Linked DNA regions of Homo sapiens: regions 2, 3, 4 and 5 are each linked to region 1. The links come from fine-mapping of genetic effects on gene expression. A gene starts in region 1. Each other region holds a variant in brackets. All regions are shown on one strand. Distances are between the middles of the regions.

Region 1 (5,103 bases):
AGGATAGTCACGACCTCTTGACCTCATGATCCACCTGCCTTGGCCTCCCAAAGTGCTGGGATTACAGGCGTGAGCCATCGCGCCCGGCCTGGACCTCAATCTCATCAGTGAGCCTTTTCCCAGGGCTCTCTGATAGAGCTTTGGAGGAAACACTTGGAACCTAACTGGTCCTGGCACCTGGCAGTGGGGGAATAAGGAAGGAGAGCTTTGCTTCTGAAGGGAAAGTGTACTTGGCTTTCTCTTTAAAGGGTTTCCCTTGGGGAACAGGCAAGCGGCAGATGTATGGGCAATGGCCAACTGATCCATTTGGAGATAGATTCAGGGTGTGGTGTTCCCTGTAAGCCTGGGCAGGCCCTGGGAAACTGGAGCAGAGCTAAATTCTGGCCTAAAGTTGGGCAAGCTGCAGAGAAGCTTGAGTACGTTGGTTTCAGGTGTGTGAGTTTTGCCTTCTGCAGAGAAACAGGGGGGTGAAGGGTGGGGGTGGAGGGGTGTCCAGGAGGGTTAGTGTATCTGTTGCCCAGGCATGTTTCTAAATTCTGAAGCTGCACTGGTTAATCATTTTTATTCATGAACACAGTAACTGGCAAGGAGGCTTAGCTGGGCCCTCAAAGTCTGGCCTCAGTGCACCTTCTCAGTATATTTTCTCAACACTCCAGCACAAATCACCCATCCCACTCTCGGATTCAAGCTCACCAGGAATTGGGCCTTACTTCATGCCATTCTTTCTTTCTAGAATGCCTTTTCTTTTTTTTTTTTCTTTTTCTTTTTCTTTTTCTTTTTTTTTTTTTGAGACAGAGTCTCGCTGTTGCCCAGGCTGGAGTGCAGTGGCGCAATCTCGGCTCACTGCAAGCTCTGCCTCCGGGGTTCACGCCATTCTCCTGCCTCAACCTCCTGAGTAGCTGGGATTACAGGCGTCCACCACCACGCCCGGCTAATTTTTTGTATTTTTAGTAGAGACAGGGTTTCACCGTGTTAACCAGGATGGTCCCGATCTCCTGACCTCATGATCCACCCACCTCGGCCTCCCAAAGTGCTGGGACTACAGGCGTGAGCCACCGCGCCCGGCCAAAAGAATGACTTTTCTTTGATAAGCCTCTCACCCTTTCAGACGGCCTCATCCACTCCTGGGGAAGCATTCCGCAGTACCTGGGGCCTCAATTAATCTCTCTCTTCTCTCTCCATCTAAGCTCCAGATTCACTTTGTTGGTCTCTGGTCTAGCTCTACCGTGTTTATTTCTGTGCCGGTTTCCAGACCTCCAAATGGACGGTTTCCTGAGCCTTCTGCCCTTGCTGTTCCCTCTGCCAGGAACTCTTTTCCTGTGGATCTTTGCAAGGCCAGCTCTCTGTCATCATTCAATATCAGCTCAAATGTCACCTCCTAAGCGAGGCCTTCCTTGACCACCCTATCTAAAGTAACCCACACCTCTGCTCACTCTCTGTCCCCTCACCTTGTGTTACAAAATGTGTTTTTGTAAAACTTAGCAGCATCTGAAATTATCTTATTTGTGGGCTTGGACTATGTCTCTTCCTTTAGAATGTAAGCTCTAGGAAGGCAGAGTGAGTTGACACATGGTTGGCACCCAACAAATATCTGTTGATTGATTCTGTGAAGGCAAGCGTGGGGTATTCGACTTGGTGCCGGGCCTGGGCGCAATAAAGGTTGGCTGCCTGGAATATTTGCTACCTGAATGAATGAACCAAGGAACATACGAACGAAGGAATGCAGCCCTCTGCCTGTTGACTGACAGGTTGACTGACAGTTGGGGGGCCCGTGGCCAGCAGACTGTTGACTGACGGTTGACAGCTGAGTGGCAGCCAACAGACGCGCATCGGGGTTCCCGATTGGCTGGTGCAGCAGCCCCTCGGAGAGGGGCGGAAGAGGGTACCCGAGGCGACATCTCCGCGTGGGGAGGGGGGCGGCACCAGGCAGCGGGAGGCGGCCCAACTGCTCTGGCTGTGCGAGCAGCAGCCGCCTAGAACCCAGGAGCCGACGTCTCTGCGCATGGGCCCGGCTCGAGGGGCGGGGCGCGCATCACGTGAGCGTGTTTTGGGCACGTGACCCGCGCGGGGCCAAGGCTCGCCCCCGCCCCCGCCCCTCCTCCCCTCGGCGGGTGTGATCGAGTGGCCTCGCCTCATCGCCTAGCGCCCCCCTCAGTCGCCGCCGCCTCCGCCCGCCGGCCATGTCCCCCGGCCGCCGCCGCCGCCGCCCGAGCGCGGCGCTCCCGCGGCCCCGCGCGCAGTGAGCGCGGGCCCGTCTTGCCGTTCGCCCGCCCCAGGGCCCCCTTGTTCTCCGCGCCGCCGCCGCCGCCATGTTGGGTTTGGAGCTGCAGCGGAGCCGCCGCCGCCGCCGCGGGTGAGGGAGGCCGAGAGCGGAGCCCGCCCCGCCCCGGGGCCCAGGGAGCGGGGCCGCTTCGGAGCCCGGCCTCTCCCCGCCAGCCGCCTTCCCGGCCCGCCGTGCAGCCAGCGAGCCAGCGAGCGAGCAAGCAAGCAAGCACCGGACCCCGGCCGCGCCTTCAGCTACGGCCCGAGCGAGCCCGCCGCCGCCGGGCCCGGCCACAGCCTGCAGCGGAGCCCACGAGAGGCAGCGCCATGGCGGAGCAGACCTACTCGTGGTGAGTGCGGGGCTCCGGGAGGCCGGGAGGCGGCAAGGGTGGGGGTCGGGGCGCCGGCGCGGCCCGCCGAGGGGAAGAGGAGGAAGAACAGGTGCGTGTCGTGGGGGGGGGGCGCGGGTTGGGGTGCACGCCCCCCTCTTCCCCACCGGAGGGGGCGGCTGGCGCGCACGGAGGGCGGTGAGTGGCCGGGGACCTGGCGTCCGAGAAGGGGAATGGAGGAGGAGGCAGCGGCGGATGTCATCTGGCTATGGGCGGAGCAGGTGATGGAGAAGGGGAGCATGACCCCGGGGGTGGGAATCCCACGGATGGGAAGTTGAATCCGACAGGCACCCCGGAACTGACTCGTGGGGGTGTTTCCTGGGCAGGAGGACTCGAAGGGGTGGAGAGAGGCAGGCCAGGGCAAAGGTGGGCCGCTGGGCTGAGAGGAAGCTCTAGTGAGAACAGGTGATAGAGGCAGAACTTCTAAGTTGGGAGAGTGGAGCGGCCGCCGCTTGGCTCTGGGACAGGGAGCGCAGGGAGAGTTGGTGAGGTGGGCAGAGGCCCGGGAGTGAGGGGAGGAAAACTGCGGGGGTAGAGTCCACGAACCTTGGAGGGGAGTCACTGGTGAAGAGGTTGGAAGAGGAGCCTGAAGAACCTGTTTCCTTTTCCTTCTGGAAAAGGAATTCGTTGGTGACAGTGGGGCATGGGCAGAGTCTTTGTAAGGGTTGGTACTATTATTTTCAGAGGAATGGCGCCCAGGGCCAAGTGTGGAGGTGGAGGACCTGCAAGTTAAGTTCATTTCTGTGGGGCTTTTAAAGTTAGTAAGTAGCTCGTTAAGGGCCGAGAAGCGAGAAGCTACTGTGTAGTTTATGGGGTGACAACCTACATATCCGGAGAAGGGAGTGCCAGGGTTTGGGGGAAGGAACATGAGGGGTCTCCCTTTAGCATGTAGAGGTGGGATATTTGCAGGACGGGTTGAAGGAATGATGGCAGTATCCATGAAGAGTGGAAATCGGGTAGTGAGAAGGAAGTCATAGCTGGAGAGTGAGGAAGCAAGAAATGGCATGATCGTAGGAGTGGGGGACCTGATTGCAATTTAGAGAAATGGTTTGAAGATGGTTTACTCTTGAAGCAAATGTGGTTTGGGACAGAACTGTAGACATTCCCTTCTTAGAAAAGAGCATAATAGAATGGGACGAGCATGCCGTGTGGAGTTGGAAGACCTATTTCGGAGGTCCGGTTTGCCACCAACTTGCTTTGTTGATACGACATGGTAGTGAGTTCTTCGGTCCTTTTTCCTTACCTATAAAATAGAGGGAATTACCTTTTCCACAGCCTGTAAGGATTAAGTGAGTACATTTAGAAAGCACTTGGCAAACTGTGAAGTGCCACAGATCTTACTACATTAATTATAATTATCCTAGAGAAACATCTAAGAAATGGGTAATATCAGAAAATAAGGAATGGTTTTAGGTAGAAGACTTTGAGTGGATTATTTATAGTGTTAGAGGTTATAAGTCAGTAACTCATTGAGTCTTCACATAAGAGAAAGGGAGTTGGGGATTGAAGATGATAATTCTTAAGAGAACTTCATTGATGTATGTGCAATCTCAAGAAGAAGGTAACTGAGAGACAAAGTAACCCTAAAGGAAGAATTAAAATCTTGGTGAACACGTGCTCTAAAAAGAGGTTTAAGCTAATTTCATAGTTTTGCGTGACAGCTGCCTTTCAGTAGCAGGTCGTAGGGAACACAAGATTACAATTTCAGCTTCCTTCTGGACAGAGTAAGAAATGAAGGTAAAGGTGTTTCTGTCATGCCTTGTGGTTACTCATCTTGAGCTTCTCATACTCTGGCCCTAATGGCTGTGGCCCTGAGAGTCCTAATGGCTGCTTTGCTGTTTTTACTGTGCTGTACAGAGGCCCTGGATGGTTGAAAGAATAGAAAACTCAGTGGTCAAGAAATGGGGAAAATGAAAATGTTTTACTAGGTAGGTTGGACACACACGACCTCTCTCTGACATTAGTTGGCTCTATTAAGGAGGGATTACTTTGTGAAGTTTGACAATTTACAAATTTATTCTACTAAAATACTTCCTTCAATGTCAGCTCTGTTTGCTTTACAGGCAAAGAAACTCCTTGAAATCGGGGAGCTTAGCCCCTCAACCTTTGGCAGGTTTTGAGATGAAGAAAATTTTTACATTATCTGGAGAGAGGGTGGCATATAAGGGGAGACTGGGGAAAGTGGGCAGTTTCCTTTTTTTTTTTTTTTTTTTTTAGGACGGAGTCTCGCTCTGTCACCCAGGCTGCAGTGCAGTGGCGCCATCTCGGCTCACTGCAGCCTCCGCTTCCCGGGTGCAAGCAATTCTTATGCCTCAGCCTCCCGAGTAGCTGGGACTACAGCCACATGCCACCATGCCCGGCTTTTTTTTGTATTTTTAGTAGAGATGGGGTTTCACCATGTTGGCCAGGCTGGTCTCAAACTCCTGACCCAGTGATCTGCCCACCTCGGCTT
Region 2 (5,103 bases), 100 kb after region 1:
GCATTGCATGAAAATGTATTTCAGCAAAAGCAGTTTTGCCAAAATTGAAGGTGCACAGTGGGCAACAGGATGTTGTTGTTTAGATAACCATCTTACTGCTAAGTGTGGTCTAAGGTTATATTTTGGAATATCTGGAGAATGAATGGGCTGTTAATTCTTAAACTGGTTATTCTTGAATGTTGATCTGTTAATAAATATTGGTAGCAGACCAGGCACGGTGGCTCACGCTTGTAATCCCAGCATGTTCAGAGGCCAAGGTGGGAGGATCACGTGAGGTCAGGAGTTCCAAGACCAGCCTGGCCAACATGGTGAAACTCCATCTCTACTCAAAATACAAAAATTAGCCAGGCGTGTTGATGCATGCCTGTAATCCCAGCTACTCAGGAGGCTGAGGCAGGAGAATCGCTTGAACTGGGAGGCAGAGGTTGCAGTGAGCCGAGATTGCGCCACTGCACTCCAGCCTGGGCCACAAACTGAGACTCCATCTCAAAAAGGAAAAAAAAAAAAAATATATATATATATATACACACACACACACACACATATATGTGTATATATATACATATATATGTATATATATACACACATACATACATACATACATATATAAAAGCAGCAGCCCAAAAATGTATTATGTTGCCAGCTAAATACAGACCTAGTTGTCTTAACAGCACTCATGGTGCATTCGTATTTTTATCAGAATGAAGGAACCTAATACCTAAATATAAGCCCATGTTTCCCCTTGTCCTGAGGCAGGCAGTGGAAGTTCCTAAAGGCAGGCCTAGAATCTTCCTCAGAAAATCCTTTTTAATCCACTCTAGGACATAAAGAAATGAGTAGTTGATTTCCTAAAGTTCTGTTCCTTGCAACTGAATTAATTCTAGCCTGAAACAAATTTAGGGCAAATATAACCAGATCTCTACCTCAGCCACACTAAAATCTTATTAAGGCACTCACAGAATATTAATATACTTCTTGATATAGTGTCTGTAATAAACTTCATGTGAAATGTACATCAAAGTGACCAAAACACCAAACTGGAATTTATACTTACACCCAATTTAAAGTTGAAGAATGTTGATGAGTTGTCATTCTAACTGACACTAATTAGCTGACAGGGTCAGTGGCCATCTGGACCTTACCCAGTTCAAGGCTAAACCATATCATTCACCTATAAAGCCTGCTGGTCTTAATATTTCTCTGTAGTAAGACAGCTCATGTGCAGCTTATCTAAAAATGATACCAGATCAAGTTTACTTGGGGAGAAATACTCTGTAGGTTTTTTTGTTTGTTTGTTTTTATGAGAAAAAAGCAGTATATACTAATGTGGAAAGATGTAGCGCGTCAAGCAGTGAGCCCATTACTTGGTGTAACAGGGCCAAGGGAAAACTTCCTCTGTGCCCCCTGAATCCTCGCTGAAAAATCCACTGACAAATAGCAGATTAATAGAAAAGGCATACAGATTTGTTAATGTGCACAAAAGTCTTACAAAATATAAGATCTCAAAAAAAAAAAATGGCCAGATGGCTGATGCTTTTATACCACCTTGAGGTTACAGAAAGAATGAGGGCTTGGAGTGTGGCAAGACAGGTTATGGTGGTAAATCAGGTTATGGTGGTGAGACAGATTATGAGAGAGAGAGAAGAGGAGGCCCAGCTAGCACAGGTGGTCCTGTCATGTAGATGAAACCTCACAGGTCGCAGCCCTGAGAGAGAATAGATGGAATATGTTTCTTTCTGACCTTCTAAGGTGTCAGACTCTCAATTAATCTTTCCTGTGTCTGGACAAGGTAGGGCCTCAGAGAAATGCCTCCACCTCATCAATGCATATTTTCTCTACAGATGCAAATCTGCCCCACACAGCTTCTCTCAGCTATTCTTGTATTTCCAGCCCTTCTGAAAACCATCTGAAATATGTCAGAGAAGTATATTTTTGGGTGAAATATTTTTGTTTCCTTCATAATTTTGCCAAGGCAGCAGGCATAAGCTGGAATTTGTGGTCACCCCACTCATGGAGTTTTTCTGTGAATCAAAAGAAACCTTGCCTGTAAAGCACCTAGCAGTGCCTGACAGTATGAGCTCAATCAAGCTTAACTATTATCATCATTTTAACCCCCTGGATGTTCTCAGCTGCTGAGTCAGAGACTGTTTCTTCCTGCCCAGGTTCTTAGTCTTTCTTTCTTAGTGTAGGTTCTATGTAAGTATCAATAATTGGACATTTGTTGACCTCCTACACCTTGACCCATAACTACTTCCTGTTCAGTCATAGTTGATGAAAAGACAAAAAAAAATAGCATATAATATGCTATAATTTAGATGGATTTTTTTTCTGTGATGGTAAATGGTTGTCTGTGATGAAAAAGCCATAGCTCAAGTCCTTCTGTTGATCATTTAAACATTGATTTCTTTTTCTTGTTTTGTTTTTTGTTTTTTTGTTTTGAGACTGAGTTTCATTCTTTTGCCCAGGGTGGAGTGAAGTGGTGTGATCTCAGTTCACTGCAACCTCCACCTCCCGGGTTCAAGCAGTTTTCTTACCTCAG[C/G]CCCCTGAGTAGCTGGGATTACAGGTGTGCGCCACCAGGCCCAGCTAGCTTTTGTATTTTTAGTAGAGACGGGGTTTCACCATGTTGTCCAGGCTGGTCTCGAACTTCTAACCTCAGGTGATCCACCAGCCTCAGCCTCCTGAAGTGCTAGGATTACAAGCATGAACCACCGCACCTGACCTAAACATTGATTTCAGTACCTAGACTTGCAAATAGCCAGGATACAATTTGGATGGAATGTATATTTATAACGTTATATTAACATCATATTATGTTACTGTATAGCAATAACAAGATTGTGAAGGCAGGTCAAGATGGAAGAGAATGAAGAGTAGTCTTCTGTGAAGATGCAGCGAACTGTTCTAGGTCCAACCTAGCAATCTGATGTCTATGCACTTAATAAATTACCAAATAAGCTAAGTTAAAGGCCTATAATTGAAAATAGTCCTGGATAGCTTTGGAGGCAGAGTCTTTTGCAAAGGCTTTATTTAAACAGCTTAAGTTTGCTGTCAGCTGTGCAGTGTGAGTAACTTTACCGGACCCCAGTCATAGTGGCATGGGATCTGCTAAGCCCAGGCCCTTTAAGCTTGTTGTATAAAGCTGGAAGATATGAATCTTCCCAGCTTGAGCTAATAGGTAAGGCCCTACTAACTCACTGTGCCCCATTTCTGTTTTGTGCAGCGGTGACCCATGGTCTGCTTCTAACAACCAAACAAGGCTTGATTTTAGCTAAGCTTGTTTGAGGCAGTGAGAAGTTCAAAGTCTTCTAATTACACAGAGAACTAGAAGAATGCTTGCTCTCCTTACCAGTCCTCCACCCTCCCCCACCATCTGATAGTACCTCATTCCTGCCTAAGGCTTTCCTGTCCCTGCTGCAGTTCTTGTCAGTTAGATGCTAAGAAAATGGACCAGCTAAAACTGGTTTGAAGTTGACCACTACTTTCTGCTACAGAAGATCCCTAGCTTACCAACGGTTTGACTTAATGATGGTTCAACTTAAGATTTTTCCACTTCATGATGGTACAAAGGCAGTATGATTTCAGTAGAAAGCATACTTCAAGTACCCATACAACCATTCTGTTTTTCACTCTCAGTACAGTATTCAGTAAGTTACTTGAAATATTCAGCACTTTATTACAAAACAGGCCTTTGTGTTAGATGATTTTGCCCAACTGTAGGCTAATGTACGTGTTCTGAGCACGTTTAAGGTAGGCTGGGCTAAACTATGATGTTCAGTAGGTTAGATGTATGAATATTAAACGCATTTTGAACTTGAGATTTTTCCACTTACCTGGGCTTATTGGGATATAACTCCATTGTAAGTCAAGGAGCAGCTGTATTTGAAAAAAGGGGAAAATCTTGCCTTAAAACATCCAGGATGGAGTTATAAATAGTTCTCAACTAATAACAAATTGAAATTGAGTTATATAACCCTTCATCCTGTCCCGCGGGGGGTTCTCAGCACCTATTCTCACTAACCCAGTCTCATGGGAGAGGCTCCGTAGCAGCTGTGCCTAGGGTTAAACCAAAGAGATGACTGGCAACCTTCCAATCCAGAATAGCGATATAATGCCAACAGAAAAAGTAAGAGAAGCTGGCAATCTGTGTAGCCCCAAGGGTAGAGATGTAGATAAAAATTCCTGCACATTTAACCTGCTGTCACCAGATTCTGAGAAGCAGAATATAACAAGTGTAGTTATTGTTATTCCATTCATAAGTGAATTTGAAAAACTCAATTTAAATTAATATATGTGTTTCCAAAACATGCCCACAGGGAAGGAGCAGTCTTCATGTTCCATTGACTCCAGAGACGTTCCCATTAAATGCATCACCAACCCTAGAGTTTAGGTCCTGCACATTGTTAGCTCTGCTGTGCGAAAACATGAATTAAAGCTTAAAAGATCATAGAAGTGAAACCATGTACTAGAAACTACCACAGGTGCGTTGGCAGGGGAAATATATGCAAAATACTACATCTAGTTTGTTGTGGAACTAATTAGGAAAAAGTTTTTCAGGAGCCAGTTGCCATAGCTATTCCTCTAAGTGTGACTGAGGTATGAGCAGTAAGTGTACGTTTTAATCTCTGCTAATGTGTCTTCCTCTGATGGCTGGAGAAATATGTCTCAAATACTGTATATGAATCTTCTAAAATCCAAGGCTTTTTTAAAATAAAAAAACCCCCAGGAAAGCCAACACATCAGACACCTGACCATATTTCAGAAGAGGAGTCTTAACCATGTTTCAGGGAGTCCACCACATCTAAAAGTCGCTGTGTTTTGGTCCTGCTGGGGAGCTGTCACCCACTGGGGCTGCCCTCCAGTGGAACAGTTTGCTAAACAGTTCGTTGGCCAGATTTATATGAGAACAGGGTGACATGTAACTAACCAGTCTCTACTTCATAGATTATCCTCCCCAGACCCCCCATTCTAATTGAGGCTTCCTTGGTACCAGTAACAGAGAAGGGAGTTTTAGTGAATGAAAGTACAGGAAACAAGAGTGGCAGCTAGAGTCAGGCTGTTAGTAGAGGGGCAAGTCTTTCAAATCCAGTAAGAAATTTTGAGTCA
Region 3 (5,103 bases), 110 kb after region 1:
GCACAGTAATGGAAATTAATCCAAAATGAAGTACAGAAAAGAATAATTTTTTTAAACATGAAAAGATCATAATGGAGCTATCATTGAACATTAGAGAGAAACCTCCAGTGGCCTACTGTATGGGTAATGGAGTCCCTGAAAGAGGAGAAGAAAGGGAGGGACAGAATAATACATGAAGAAATAATGGCCAAGTTTTTTCTAAATTTGATAACTATAATCTGCAGATTCAAAACTGCAGATTATAAGCACAAAAAACATGAAGAAAACTACACCAAGACACATAATCAGTAGCTCAAAATGAGTGGTAAAAGAAAATCCCCAAGGCTGCCAGAGGGGGCAAAAAAGCATGTTAGGTACAGAGGAGAAAAGATGAGGGTGATGTCAGATTTGAAAATACAAGTGAAAAGTCAATGTAACGGTAGCTTTAAAGTACAGGAAGAAAAAAACTGTCACTGTAAGATTCTACAGCAAAAATATCTTTTAAAAATGAAGGCAAAGTAAAGATGTTTTTGACATACCATACACTACCGGAAAGAATTCATCTCATCACCAGCTGTCTTACACTAAAAAATGTTAAAGGAAGTCTTTTGAGCAGAATGAAAATGGTACCAGCCTTAAATCTGTATTTACACAAGGGAGTTAAGATCACCAGAAATGAACATCCATCGATAAAAGTTTTTTTCTATTTACAGTTGTGTAAAAGATAATTGACTGGAGCTGGGCACAGTGGTGTGTACCTGTAATCCCAGCTACTTGGCAGGTTGAAGCAGAAGGATTGATTGCTCAAGCCCAGATGTTTGAGACCAGCCTGGGCAACATAGCAAGATGAATGAAAGAATGAATGATAATTGACAACATAAACAAACATTATATATTGTGAGGTTTATAAGATAACATGTAAGAGTTAAATGCATGGCCACAGTAGCACAAAGGTTGAGGGAGGGAAATAAATATAAACTATTGTAAGGAGTTTATACTATACATGAATGTTACAATATAACTGGAAGGTAGACTGTGTTAAAGATGTATACTATAGACCCTACAGCAGCCACTAAAATTAAAGAGCAAAGAGTTATAGCTCATAGGACAACAAAGGAGATCAAATTGGATCATAAAAAATGCTATATTAATCCAAACAAAGTCAGGTTAAGGGGAAATAAAATAGGACAAGTAGGAAACAAATAGTAAGATGATAGGCTCAAACTTAATTGTATCACTGATCACATTCAATGAAATTGGTCTACACACCTCTTTAAAACAGCAGTTGTCCAGGTGCAGTGTCTCACGCCTCTAATCCCAGCACTTTGGGAGGTCAGGGCAGGCGGATCATGAGGTCAGGAGTTCGAGACCAGCCTGGCCAACATAGTGAAACCCCGTCTCTACTAAAAATACAAAAATTAGCAGGGTGTGGTGGCATGCGCCTGTAGTCCCAGCTACTCGGGAGGCTGAGGCAGGAGAATTGCTTGAACCTGGGAGGCAGAGGTTGCAGTAAGCCAAGACTACACTGCTGCACTCCAGCCTGGGTGACAGATTGAGACTCTGTCTCAAAAAAATAAAAATAAAAATAAAACAGCAATTGTGAAATTGAATAAAAAAGCAAGACCCAAATATATGCTGCTTACAAGAAGCACACTATAAAGCCAAAAAAGGTTAATCCCTGTTGTCTAGTGGTTAGGATTAAAAAAAAAATAGTTAAAAGTAAAAGGTTAGGAAAAGATATGCTGCTTATACTCATCTACAGAAAGCTGGAATGGCTGTATTAATATAAGACAAAGCAGCTTTCAGAGTAAAGAATACTACCACAGACAAGAAGGTTATTTTGTAATGACAAAGGGGTCAATTAAGCAAGAGAGCATAACAATCACAAATGTTTATGTATCTAATAAAAGATCTTCAAAATACATGAAGCAAAAACTGAGAGAACTGCAAGGAGAAATAAATTCACAAATATAGCTGAAGATTTCAGTACCACTC[C/T]CAATAATAGAATAATTAGGCAGAAAATCAGTGAAGATACAGTGGATTTCAACAATACTCTTAATCAATTTGACCTAATTGACATTTATAGAATGTTCCATCCAACAACAGAACACACGCTCTTTCTCAAGTGTATGTGGAATATTTACTAATGCAGACCATATATGGGGACATGAAACAAATCTCAATACATTTAAAAGGATTCAGGTATGAAATCTGATCTGCATTAGCCCAGGCTGCCATGAAATACCCATAGACTGGGTGGCTTAAACAGCAAATTTATTTTTTCAGAGTTCTGGAGATTGGAATTCTCAGGTCAGGGTGTCAACATGGTTAGATTCTGTTTTCCAAAGTGTCTGCACCAGTTCACATTCCCACTAGTAGTGTATGAAGGTTCCAGTTTTACATCCTTGTGTCCTTGCCAACACTTAGTTATCTGACTTTTTTATTATAGCCATCCTGCTATGTGTGAAGTGGTTTCTCATGGTGGTGGTTTTGTTTTGAGGAGACAGTGTCTCACTTTGTTGCTCAGGCTGGAGTGCAGTGGTGCCATCAGCCTTGACCTCCTGGGCTCAAGTGATCTCCTACCTCAGCCTGGCGAGTAGCTGAAACTGTAGGCACATGCCACCACACCCAGCTAATTCTTTTATTTTTTATAGAGACAGGGTCTCACTGTGTTGCCCACATGGGTCTCAAGTGAGCCTCTTGCCTCAGCCTCTCAAAGTGCTGGGATTCCAGGCGTGAGCCACCGCTTCCAGCCAGTTTCTCATGGTTTTGACTTGTATTTCCCTGATGACTAACGGTGTTGAACATCTTTTCATGGGCTCATTGGCTATTTGTGTATCTTCTTTGAAGAAATGTCTCTTCAGATCCTTTGTTCATTTTAAAATCAGGTTGTCTTTTTTATTATTGAGGTGTAAGAGTTCTTTATATATCCTAGACACAAGTCCCTTATCAGATACATGATTTGCAAAGATTTTCTCCCATCCTATGGGTTGTCTTTTGACTTTTTGGTTAGTGTCCTTTGAGGCACGTAAGTTTTTTAAGTTTTTCTCTGTTTTTTAGCATCATATCTAAGAATCTACTCCAAATCCAAGGTCACAGAGATTTACCATGTGTTTTTATCTAAAAGCTGTATAGTTTTAGAAGTCAGTTCCTCTGTCCTACCAGCCACATTTCAGTGATCACATGATGTGGCTGATGTCCACAGCACTTGTCAGTGCAGATAAAGACCATCATAACAGAAAGTTCTTTTGCAAAAAAACAACTTTTTTTTTTTTTTTTTTTTTTTGAGACAGTCTCACTCTGTTGCCAGGCCGGAGTGCAGTGGCGCAATCTTGGCTCACTGCAACCTCTGCCTCCTGGGGTCAAGCAATTATCCTGCCTCAGCCTCCCAAGTAGCTGGAACTACCGGCACGCACCACCACGCCCAGCAAATTTTTGTATTTTTAGTAGAAACGGGGTTTCACCATGTTGGCCAGGATGGTCTCGATCTTCTGACCTCGTGATCTGCCCGCCTGGGGCTCCCAAAGTGCTGGGATTACAGGCGTGAGCCACTGCACCCACAAACACCTTCTTTACAGGAAAACACTAGCAGAAAATTAGCTAAGAACTTGGACAGATACTTCACAAAAAAAAAGAAAGAAATGAGCAAGCTTTTGTACACAACATTATTCACTGGTTAAAGAATTCTAAATCAAAGTGACGTGCCATTTTTAGTTCCCCAGATAGACAGTGACTACTTCCTTCAGGTCTTGACTCTGAAGTCACTGTCAGTGAGGCCTTCCTGTTCATCCTGTCTAAAATTTCAAACCCTAACCCCTGCATTTCCTAGTTTTCCTCCTTAGCACCTGCCATGAACACGCTATGTATTGAACTTATTTTTCTGGTCTATTACATCTCCCCCCTTGAATATAAAATCCAGTCTTGTGTTTGCTATTTATTGTCCCTGTAGTACCTAGAACAGTTCCAGATATAGAAGACACTCAAATTTTTTTTGTTGTTGAATCACAGCTGACAGGGTATAGGGAAATGAGTGCTCTCATACACTGCTGAGAGAGTGAACTGATGCAGCCTTTTTGCGAACAGTTGTGTGGTATGTAAAAGTCTCAAAATGTGCTTGCCCTTTGACATTTCTCCTTCTAGGCTTTTATCATAAGGAAGTAATTAAGGATATGATATGCTCAGAGATAGGAGTGGAAGATTCAGCTGCATTGGGATGCTTTCATCTGCAGTCAGGAAAACTCTTGAACTGACACATTGGAAGGACTGAAGATTGTTTTTTAAAATGTTACAAGAGCTATTTTTCAGAGTTGTTCAAAAGAGACCTTCTTTCCTAATTCCTTGGCATTTAAAAATATTGTCATATGACTTTTCTGACCTTCTTTTGTAAGCAAAACTACAACTTAACTACAAAATTTTTTTCCACAGGTCCCTTAATATGGACTTTGAAAATCAAGATAAGGAGAAAGACAGTAATAGTTCTTCTGGGTCTTTCAATGGCAACAGCACCAATAATAGTAAGATATTTTATGTCAATTAACTTCTGTACATATAGTTTTCTTAATTTGGCTGTTTCTATACCTCCAGTTAATAATTTACTGGGTTCAAGGATTTATGATTGGTATAAAAAAACATTGAATTATACTTAAAATGAGTGAATTTTACGGTATGTAATTGTACCTCAATAACGTTAATAAAAATGTTTGATGCTTATAGAAAGATTTGAATTTGAAGTGACTTGATTTGATAATATTAATACATTTATATTGAGATCTGCCATGTACTCAACATTCTGTTAGATCTTTTGAAAGATGCAAAAGTACAAGAGAAATTTTTGCCAAGATGTTCTTTAAAAAGTGCCAAGATATCCAGGCGCAGTGTCTCCCACCTGTAATTCCAGCACTTTGGGAGGCCAAGGTAGGCAGATCACTTGAGGTTGGGAGTTCAAGATCAGCTTGACCAACATGGAGAAACCCTATCTACTAAAAATACAAAATCAGCCAGGTGTGGTGGCGCATGCCTCTAATTCCAGCTACTACTGAGGCTGAGGCAGGAGAATCGCTTGAACCCAGGAGGCAGAGGCTGCAGTGAGCCGAGATCGTGCCATTGCACTCCAGCCTGGGCAAC
Region 4 (5,103 bases), 140 kb after region 1:
CTGGAAGGCGGAGGTTGCAGTGAGCAGAGATTGCGCCACTGCACTCAAGTCTGGGCGACAGGGTGAGACTCCATCTCAAAAAAAAAAAAAAAAAGGAAATGTTATCCTGGCAGTGGGTCATTTTAATTTTTCTGTCTTTGTTTTCATAAGAAAATTAAATTCCAGACAGAAGGAACGTCGTTATTTTGTCATTCTCACTTCTGTGCAGGTTTTGGGGGGAAATACCCACACAGGGCTGTGAATGCACCCTGGATTCCAGTTGCTAATCTTCAAAGCCCTTAAAACACTCCCTTAAAACTTTGGCAGAGAAACAGCAAATACTCTACTCGTCTCGGAGGGTTGAGTGGGTGGCTGCAGTTAAAGCACACATTAGACTTCCCTTCCAGTGCTCGTTTGCTCCCCGCTGCCTGATACACTTAGGTCCGCCTCTTATTCTGTTTTCTCAAATACCATGGTTTAGGGGTTTTCTAGGAAGTCTGCTGCATTAGGCATGGCATGCTCATGAAATTTCAGCAGATTCCTTCCTCACTGATCTGAAGTCCTTTTTCCTCACAAAGAGACTGTGTGTTACTAGAACTCCCGCTTTTTAATAACTCTTTTTTCTAGTTTGAGCTAATGAAGATATGACAGTAAAGTCTGTCCAAAGCCTAGTGTGTTCCATTGCTGTTATTACAGTGCATACGCTTTCTGAATGTGACAGTGACAGCTCCCCGCATAGGAACGGTTCGGTGGCTTGGGACTAAGCTACTGTCTGAATTACTTTTGTAGCAGGCTCACAGGCCTTGGGTAAACAGGTAAGTTAGGTCACCCACAAGAAAAACAAAAGTACTCGTTCTCTGTGAGGGTGGAGGGGAAGGGAGTTCCATTTTGCCAATCAAGTGTTAAAAATAGAACCTGCTGTGTCTGCTTAGCAGCTCTCACGTTACTGCTCACCAGATCCCATGTTGTGTGTACGTTTCTGTTTTGTAAAGCCTAGCGTTTACGTCAGAGCCTGGGAATGCAGCACTCGTGTCTATACATGGGAGTACATGCCTTAGGGACATCATTTATACAACCCCCTTCTCTACAGAGCTATGTCAGCGGTACAGGCTCAGAAGGAAGCCATCTCGGTCTCTTTCTGGTCTTCAGTGCACAGTGGCCAGGACAGCCTCCCCCACTTCACCGAATCACATTTCTTCAGCAGTTTCCAACAGTGAAATCATTTCTAGGACAATGGCTGCTAACACGTGTCAGCTGAAGCACTGCAGATCGAGTCATCCAACTCAAGCTTCTTCCTCTTATTGGAAGGGATAAACCAGGTAAGACTTTTTAATCCAGAAATTATTCCTATTCCCTGCAATGTATAGGGTGCTTTCTATCTGCAAAACTCTAAACTCAAATTTCTGCAGGTTCAGATTCCAACTGTCTCATGCGCAGAGACTCTCCCATCACAAAATTCTTCCCGCTCCAGCCATCATCTGTTTCCTCCTCAGCCTTTCCCTTGAAATCCAGAGCCCTTTCCTGTCCGTTAGAGGCAATCAGTCATGTTTCAGTGAAGCTTGAGGCACTGGGCCCCCCAGTGAACAAAACCAGACATCCTGACCCCCTACTCCTGCGGTCTGTGCAGGGCTTGCTTTAGCATGCTTGGCTTGTGGGGAGGGGGTGTGGCAGCCATTCCCACACAAGGTCACGCAGGGATGCCACAGTGCGTTCAAGAGTAGAATCCACAGCCTTCTCTCCGTAACTCTGGGCCTTGCTGTAAATAGCAGAGGCTTGGGCTGGGGATCCTGTATCACTGGACGGGATGTGCCAATGAAGAGAAGGCTGAGAAGCAAGTTGGTGTAGGAGAAGCCCAGTGCTCCTGGTGGACACAGGCCTGCATTCAACCAAATGTCTGAAGACAAGCGAAAGCCTACAGCCCCAAGCGCAATGATCTTTCGTCACTACAGGTTTCAGAAGTCTTACCGCACGGAGCCAGTGGTTAGCAGGTGCTTGATACAAACATCCTGCAGGGAGGCTGTGAAGATTCTAACTGCAGCACTTACGGAGGAGCACTTTAGCGTGCGGTAGATTTCCTAGATAACCTGAGGTCTTAAGAATTCATGCGGCAGACTCCGCTTCGCTTCTGGTTCCTTTCATTTGGAGTCTGCCTAACCAGTTTTTCTCTTAAGTTCCAAGACATCTTCTTCCTGTTGAGTAGAACCTGTAAAACA[C/T]GCCACCTGTCTGCAGGCGAACAGAGGCTCTGAAGGTTCCAAAATAGCTAAGCCCACGAGCTGTCTCCAGCCCCCATGGAGTCCTGGGATTCTCACCAGATCCAAAGATGACAGGAATGGGAACCAGTTAGGCAGAGGAAGCAAGACTTGAGAGACTGGGAGTGGGGAAGCCGCCAGGCAGTGGGCAGCAGGCCTGCGCTTGTGAGGAATGGGAGACAGGAAGTGGGTGTCCACAGGACAGAGACGGAGGGGGACAGCACGATGGTCACTGCATTCAACCAAATGTCTGAAGACAAGCGATCCAGCCCCGGGATCCCGACACCAGTTGCTCTGTCTCACCAGAGAGCCTCTCTCCAGGCGGACCACCTGTCAGCCTGCTACTGCCACCTTTCACTCTGCCCACCTGGAGCTGCTGGAGTGTAGCCACCACGTGAGCTTCTAGCTTTTGTGTTTGAGCCTTTGCCATTAGAGATTGAATTTCCTCACACCTGCGGTTGCTGTCGTGCCTTGATGGGGTTTTTATCCCCAGGCAGATAGTAACATATCCTGTGACAGCTCCCTGGGGAAGGCGGAAACCAATTTCAGAGAAAGAGGCTGAGCGCTTGCTAGTGCAGGGAGGAACTAAGATGACGAAGCATCGCACGGATGAGTCGTGGCCTTGCCGGCTTGACGGCGGGTAGAATGCAGTGCCACCCTCCCCAAGACCACCATCTGGCCAGGAGCCCCGGCCCCACCTTTCCTCCTTCGCTTGTGCCTCCTGGCACTTCCCGCAGCCCTCCCCTGTTGAGTGTAGGCGTTCTGCCCGGGGCAGTCGCTGTGAGAGAGGCCATGGCCTGGACTAGGGTGATGCGAAGAACAGAACTTGCTACCAGATTGGATGCAGGGTTGGGGACTCCACAGTGACTCCACACTTCTTAACCTGAACAATGAATTGCCAAAATAGATAACAGAAGAAATTGGGGAAGAAGAGTTGTTCTAGCCAATAGAGCAGCTAAAGCCAAAAAAAAAAAAAGTCTTCAGTGATGTAAAGCCTTGCAGAGTATGCGAGATGACCTGGACAGTGAGAGGCAGGAGGAAGACTGCTCTGTGGTGCTCTGAGTGTGAAGGCATTTGTCATGCGCATCCCCCACACAGCCACCATGGGGCTCTGGTTAGGGATGGAGCCCCCTGAGTCCGAGCTGCTTCATCTGAAATGGGGATGAAGGTGCCTCATAGAAAGTATTGAGTAAATATGAGGCGCTCTTCTGGTTTACTGTGTTCTCATATATTTCACACACAATGCTCAGAGAGTTGGAATACAGTTAAAATCATTAGATCTGTACGCTGTCATTATTCAAACCACCACAGCTCCCGGTTCATCATTAGGAATACTGGTTCTCTCCCCTCTGCTGAGGGGTGATTTCCCCCATCCAGGGTCTTGAAATTTTCTTCTACACACTGAAAGCCTTAGCACAAAGCTCCATATGCAGAGGGGGATGGTGGGTGACCCTGCCCATGCAGTTCCTCATTTTGGCTTCTTAAGGCCAAGAAGATCAACCTCTACCCAGATTCTGCACACAAACCAGTGTTGACGTTTTTATTTTTCTGTACTTTTTTTTTCCATAATAAACACTGCATGTGCCCTCTTTAACTTCAGTGTACTTTAAAGTCTTACTGCTTGTTTTGAGGGAAAAGTTTACTACACTGTGAAGCTCCCATTCTGTCAGTCTTTTGTGGGCCTGTATTAGTTGATACATCTAGGTTTTTCTTGAACACCCTTGGAACAAAAGACTCATGGGCCAGGGCCGGGCTCGGTGGCTCACGCCTGTAATCCCAACACTTTGGGAGGCCGAGGTGGGTGGATCACCTGAGGTCGGGAGTTCGAGACCAGCCTGACCAACATGGAGAAATCCCGTCTCTACTAAAAATACAAAATTAGCCGGGTGTGCTGGCATATGGCTGTAGTCCCAGCTACTCGGGAGGCTGAGGCAGGAGAATCGCTTGAACCTGGGAGGTGAAGGTTGCAGTGAGCCGAGATCGCACCACTGCACTCCAGCCTGGGTGACAGAGCGAGACTCCTTCTCAAAAAAAAAGACTCATGGGCCAAACTCCTATCCTGTGTTAAAATAAAACACAGTGTCATTCTAAGCCACTTGGCTCAGGTCAGTCCACTGAATAGGAGAGGGACAGTAGCCAGACTAGAGAGAGTGAAAGAGGAGATTCCAGCCACGCATTTGGAAAATTCTCAGTCCTCCAGGACACAGTGAAGCAATCAGGGCTGAGGCACCGTCTGATGAAGCAGATCAATAACTGGTGGGATGACCCATGACCCTCCCCAAAAGTCGCTGATGAAGGAGCTGATGCTACCTTGAAGGGATGGGCCCGGGCTTCGTCCTCAGCCCTGTCCTGTCCCACATCCCTCTTGATCATTTGGCCAGGGACACAGTTGCCAGGCTTCATTTGAGGAGAACGTGAAGCAAGGAGAAGGGACATACTCATGACCTAAAGAAAGCTCAGAGGCCTGGGGTGTCAAAGCAGATCTGGGGAGATCTGCTGGAGAGAGCCCCAGCCAATGATGGCCACACACCGGGTGTCAGTCATGCCTCCCAAGAGCCCTTTAATAAAGGCAGGTGCCATTACTGTCACCATTGTCACAAAGGAACTCGCCAAGACCCCAAGATCACAAATTGCTAAGTGGCAGAATAAGCTCTAAACACTGTCCCTAATCATTATATTCCATCCTCATCCCAGGATTAGAAATGATCTCCACCCCAGAAAATACAGGTAAGGCATAAACACTGATGGCTCTAGGGCCTACTCTTAGTTCCAAATACATTTAAATCCTACTCTTAGTTCCAAATACATTTAAATCCATCCACTGCCTGTAGCAAATAAAGATTCTTGCAACAGCGTCTGCCTGGGTCTCCCTAAC
Region 5 (5,103 bases), 160 kb after region 1:
ACTTCTAGGAATTTAGAAAGCAAACCAAAAAAAAAGAGTGAATCAAGCTGGGTACAGTGGCTCACACCCATAATCCCAGCACTTTGGGAGGCCAAGATGGGAGGATCACTTGAGCCCAGGAGTTTGCGACCAGCCTGGCAACATAGCAATACTCTGTTTCTACTAAAAATAAAAAAAAATTAGCCAGGTCTGGTGGCAAATGCCTGTAATCCCAGCTACTCGGGAGGCTGAGGTGGGAGGATTGCTTGGGCCCAGGAGCCTGAGGCTACAGTGAGCCATAATTGTACCACTGCACTCCAGTGCGGACAACAGAGCAAGACCCTGTCTCAAAAAAAAAAAAAAGTGAATAAAATTATCAAAGAAATAATGTAATAGTTCCAAGAATTAAAGAACATGGAGGAAAAAAACATGGATCTCTAGATGGAAAGACCCACCACGTGCCCAGCTAAATGAATGAAAAATGACCCACATCAAGGTGTTCTGGTGTTCTGGTCAGTAGGTGGCATAAATAGATCCCAGCCCAGCGTGGTGGCTCCATTGCTAAAGATCTGATCAGTGGTGACCTGGGAATGTCCTGGAGGAGGGAATGCTGTGGCAGCTGTGATGATGCAGAATTTGAAGGCTATCCAGGGTGGAGGTGGGACAATGCCAGGGAAAGTGCCGAGGTGGCTGCTCACTGCTCAATCGTCCTGATGCTCTATCTGCAGCAAGTGAGAAACTGAGAACTGTGAACAAGCAGTTCACGGCTAAGTGTGAGCACCAGAGAGCCTTGGTATCGAGGAGTGTAAAAAAAGGCTTTTTTTTTTTTTTTTTTGAGACAGAGTCTTGCTCTGTCGCCCAGGCTGGAGTGCAGCGGCACCATACCATTCCACTGCACCCTCCGCCTCCGCCTTCCGGGTTCAAGCGATTCTCCAGCCTCAGCCTCCCAAGTAGCTGGGATTACAGGCGTGCACCACCACGCCCGGATAATTTTTGTATTTTTAGTAGAGTCAGGGTTTCACCATGTTGGCCAGGCTGGTCTCGAACTCCTGACCTCAGGTAATCTACCCACCTGGGCCTCCCAAAGTGCTGGGATTACAGGTGTGAGTCACCATGCCCGGCCTGAGTGGATAATCTATTGAAAGAACTAACGAAGTTCTTCAACATAACCAGATAAACAGAAATAAAAACGAAATATGTCAGCAATAAACAATTTTTTTTAATAGTGGGTGACTTCTGGTTTGCCCCAAGGTGGTGAACTAGCATATAGGTTGTTGGCTTCCTGCCTTAGCCAAAGCCTGAGTGCTATAGAGATTAAAGGAAAGCATATTGATTCAGGGAACTAAAGATCAGAAGAAAATTCTAGGGAGAGAAGGCGGTTGTGAGCAAATGTAGAGGGGAGCACAGCAGACCTGAGTGAGGCAGAGCTGGGGGCTATGGCGGATGAATCGGGACCCCTTCCTACTTCAGTTATTAACTAGAAGGATTCACATGACCTGATGAGGTTATATCACAGCTAAGGTTGACTAAGCGAAGGATACACCACGGGACCAGAGAGAAAGATACACATAGACAAAGTCCAGGGAGGCCGAGAGCAGGCTGCACGGTGTGTTTCTTTCCAGGTGTGAACCACAGAGATGTGAGATGTCTCTGCCCAGGGAAACACCCAGGTCTCAAAACCTGTTGTTCTAAGAAGATGGTCACATAGGCACTTTCCTGCCACATGACCAGCCATGGTAACCAAAACACAGCACTCCAAAACAGAGGCCAGACGCACATCCTAAGTTTTTTTTTTTTTTTTTTTTTTTTGAGACAGAGTCTGTCTCTGTCCCCCAGGCTGGAGTGCAGTGGCACGATCTTGGCTCACTGCAAGCTCCGCCTCCTGGGTTCACGCCATTCTCCTGCCTCAGCCTCCCACCCCCGGCCCCGAGTAGCTGGGACTACAGGCGCCCGCCACCACACCCACCTAATTTTTTGTTTTTGTTTTTAGTAGAGACGGGGGTTTCACCGTGTTAGCCAGGATGGTCTCGATCTCCTGATCTTGTGATCCGCCCGCCTCGGCCTCCGAAAGTGCTGGGATTACAGGCGTGAGCCACCGCGCCCGGCCGCACATCCTAAATCTTGATGTTAAACATTCTGACATCTGACAGGCTGCTCATCCTGCCCCAGTGCACCAGGCCTACAGATTAACATTCATCAGTAACTACATGCACCTTCCAAGAGTTTCCTTCTCAGCTTGTCCCAGGTCAGTGCCATAGCTCCAGGCACTCCCAGAGAGCAGCAAAGACTGAGTAAGCCAGGCCTGCTCACAACAGAAACGCAGACTGTGGAAACCCTTGGCCTTTCCTCTTGCCTCTTTTAGAACTCTCAATAGAGCCATCTGGGCCAGATACCGTGTTTTTTTTTTTTTATTAAAAAAAAAAATACTGAGCTGGAAGCATTAATGTCCACCTATTTTAAGTGTACAGCCTTCGTGACTCTTTCCACATGACTATACCTGAACCACCACCACTCGGATCAGAATATAAAACCTTTCCAGCACCCAGCAAGCTTCTCTTGTGCCTCTTGTCAGTGGCCCCCAAGGTAACCACTGTTCTAATTTCAGTCACCACAGATTAGTTTTGCTTGCATTTGAAATTCATGTAATACAGTGAATACATTATGAAGTCTTGACTATAAACTTTTTTGAGACAGAGTCTC[G/C]CTCTGTCCCCCAGGCTGGAGTACAGTGGTGCAATCTCGGCTCACTGCAACCTCCGCCTCCCGGGTTCAAGCGATTCTCCTGACTCAGCCTCCTGAGTAGCTGGGATTACAGACATACGCCACCACGCCCAGCTAATTTTTGTTATTTTTAGTAGAGACAGGGTTTCACTCTGTTAGCCAGGATGGTCTTGATCTCCTAACCTCATGACCCGCCTGCCTCGGACTCCCAAAGTGCTGGGATTACAGGCGTGAGCCACCATGTCTGGCCTACCTTTTTTTAAATTTAACTTTGTTTGCTTGTTTTGAGATGGGGGTCTCCTTATGTTTCCCAGGTTGGTCTCCAACTGCTGGAGCATCCTCAAGCAATCCTCCTACCTCAGCCTCCAAGTAGCCAGGGTTATAGGTGCACGCCACTGTGCCCAGCTTTGAGCCTAACCTTTTTTGCTTAATGTTACATTTGTAAGATTCAGCCATGTTAGCAATTTATGGTCAGTAGTTCATTCTTTTTTATAGTTGTATGTATGCTCATTGTTGGAATACAGCATTTCTCCTCAATAATTGTACCAATTTACCCTTCCGCCTGCTCTGAGAGGCAATTCCAGTTGAGTTACATTTCCACTGACTCTGTTAGGAGATGCCTTTTGTGGGGACAAATGTTTAACTCCTTTTCAATTTGTTCTAGTCTTACTGGTCTGTTTTTTGTGTTTGTTTGTTTTTTCTGCCTTCTCTAGAATCAATTCTGTGTATTTGTTTTCCTGGAAGATAAATCATTTATGTAGATTTTAAATTTCATCAGCATGAGTATGATAGTTTTTTTTTTTGTTTGTTTTGTTTTTTGAGACGGAGTCTTGCTCTGTCGCCCAGGCTGGAGTACAGTGGCACTATCTCGGCTCACTGCAACCTCTGCCTCCCTGGTGCAAGCGACTCTCCTGCCTCAGCCTCCTGAGTAGCTGGGACTACAGGTGCATGCCACCATGCCCAGCTAATTTTTGTATTTTTAGTAGAGATGAGGTTTCACCATGTTGGCCAGGCTGGTCTCAATCTCTTGACCTCGTGATCCTCCCACCTCAGCCTCTCAAAGTGCTGGAATTACAGGCGTGAGCCACCGCGCCCGGCTGAGTATGATAGGTTTTGGTATGCCATGTTTTCATTTTGTGTATTAAATATAAAATACACAAAAATCAAATTGTATTAAAATCTCGTACCAAAAACATGAGTCCCCTGACTCGCCCGTCTCACTTCCTCGGACTCTTTTAGTATTTATATGTTTATCTTTTTTTTTTTAAGATGGGGCCTTGCTATGTTGCTAATGCTCACGTGAGCGTGGAAGGGAACGGAGTTTCAGATGAGACTGCAGTCCCTTGCTTTCAGTTTGTGAGACCCTGGACAGAGCATCCAGCTAAGCCACGCCCAGACTCCTGAACCATGAAAACTATGAGATGGGTTTGTTTTTTTGGTTTTTTTTTTTTTTTGGTTTTTTGACAGGGCCTTGCTCTGCTGCCCAGGCTGGAGTGCAGTGGTGTAATCTCAGCTCGCTGTAGCCTCGAACTCCTGGGTTCATGTGATCCTCCTAATTTAACCTCCCAAGTAGCTGGGAGTACAGGCATGCATCACTGAGCCTGGCTAATTTTTTTTTTTTTGTAGAGACAGGGTCTCACTATGTTGCCTAGGCTGGTCTTGCATCCCTGGCCTCAGGTGATCTTCCCTCCTTGGCCTCCTGTGTAGCTAGGACTCTAGATATGCGGCACTGCGTCCAGCTAATTTATTTTTTATTTTTTGTAGAGATGGGCTCTCCCTGTGTTGCCCAGGCTGCTCTTGAACTCCTGGGCTCAAGCCATCCTCCCACCTCGGCCTCCCGAAGAGCTGAGATTACAGGGCTGAGCTGCTGTGCCTGGCCCTTTAAGATGGGTATTTCTTCAAGCCACTAAGCGTGTAGTGATGTGTTGCTAGAGTAGAAAACCAATACCAGTGTAGCGTCGCTTTCTCATCAGCTCCAGCCTGTCCCCAGCTGGGTGACACTGGGCTTCGACCGCAGTCATGGGCCCGGCAGCCAGGAGAGGAGGTGAGGGCCGCTGCAGAGGGGCACCTGTGGCCTTGTTGGGAGCGGCTTCCGCAGACTCTTCCAGTAGCAGAAGCCCTCACCTTCCTATGGAGAGGCAGCCACCCTCTGCACCCTGGAGAGTTTGGGCTGGAGAGCAGCATCAGGGGCATCCGTTCAGATGGCTCCGTTTTCCGGATGCCAGGTTTTCCTTCCCACGCCCCTGCCCTTGGCCTAAGCAATCTGCCGGGGCTGAGTCTTCAGGCTCTGGAGCTCTGCAAATTCCTGTTAGGTCTCTGGCCTGCCTGCACCATGTCTGCCCTTCTGCTACACATAAGAGCCTTTTTTTTTTTTAACCTGATACACAATAATTGTACATATTTATG

What was found. PIP is the estimated chance that this variant, and not a neighbour inherited with it, causes the effect. A credible set is the group of variants that fine-mapping cannot tell apart.
Region 2: its variant is the best candidate, but not a certain one, in a credible set for the expression of SPPL3 in blood mononuclear cells (TOPMed, PIP 0.55).
Region 3: its variant is the best candidate, but not a certain one, in a credible set for the expression of SPPL3 in whole blood (INTERVAL, PIP 0.72).
Region 4: its variant is the best candidate, but not a certain one, in a credible set for the expression of SPPL3 in spleen (GTEx, PIP 0.56).
Region 5: its variant is the best candidate, but not a certain one, in a credible set for the expression of SPPL3 in whole blood (TOPMed, PIP 0.89).

Annotation. Positions count from the first base shown.
Region 1 is chr12:120,901,354-120,906,456 of GRCh38, reverse strand. It overlaps SPPL3 (signal peptide peptidase like 3), which reads left to right and starts at 2,099. Exons shown (of 11, transcript NM_139015.5): 1 at 2,099-2,612. The coding sequence starts at 2,590. XLOC_009911 (a long non-coding RNA gene) reads right to left here and starts at 1,762. Exons shown (of 2, transcript NR_131215.1): 1 at 1,685-1,762. RefSeq lists silencers at 1,900-2,259, 2,340-2,559, 2,700-2,749.
Region 2 is chr12:120,797,838-120,802,940 of GRCh38, reverse strand. All of the region lies in intron 2 of SPPL3 (signal peptide peptidase like 3), which reads left to right. Among named protein-coding and RNA genes, the nearest start is that of ACADS, 75 kb to the right of the region's middle. The variant C/G (reference allele first, on the strand shown) is at 2,540.
Region 3 is chr12:120,790,859-120,795,961 of GRCh38, reverse strand. It overlaps SPPL3 (signal peptide peptidase like 3), which reads left to right. Exons shown (of 11, transcript NM_139015.5): 3 at 4,405-4,493. Among named protein-coding and RNA genes, the nearest start is that of ACADS, 68 kb to the right of the region's middle. The variant C/T (reference allele first, on the strand shown) is at 1,975.
Region 4 is chr12:120,757,586-120,762,688 of GRCh38, reverse strand. SPPL3 (signal peptide peptidase like 3) reads left to right here. Exons shown (of 11, transcript NM_139015.5): 11 at 1-179. Among named protein-coding and RNA genes, the nearest start is that of ACADS, 34 kb to the right of the region's middle. The variant C/T (reference allele first, on the strand shown) is at 2,193.
Region 5 is chr12:120,744,919-120,750,021 of GRCh38, reverse strand. No RefSeq gene overlaps it. Among named protein-coding and RNA genes, the nearest start is that of ACADS, 22 kb to the right of the region's middle. RefSeq lists a silencer at 2,102-2,317. The variant G/C (reference allele first, on the strand shown) is at 2,680.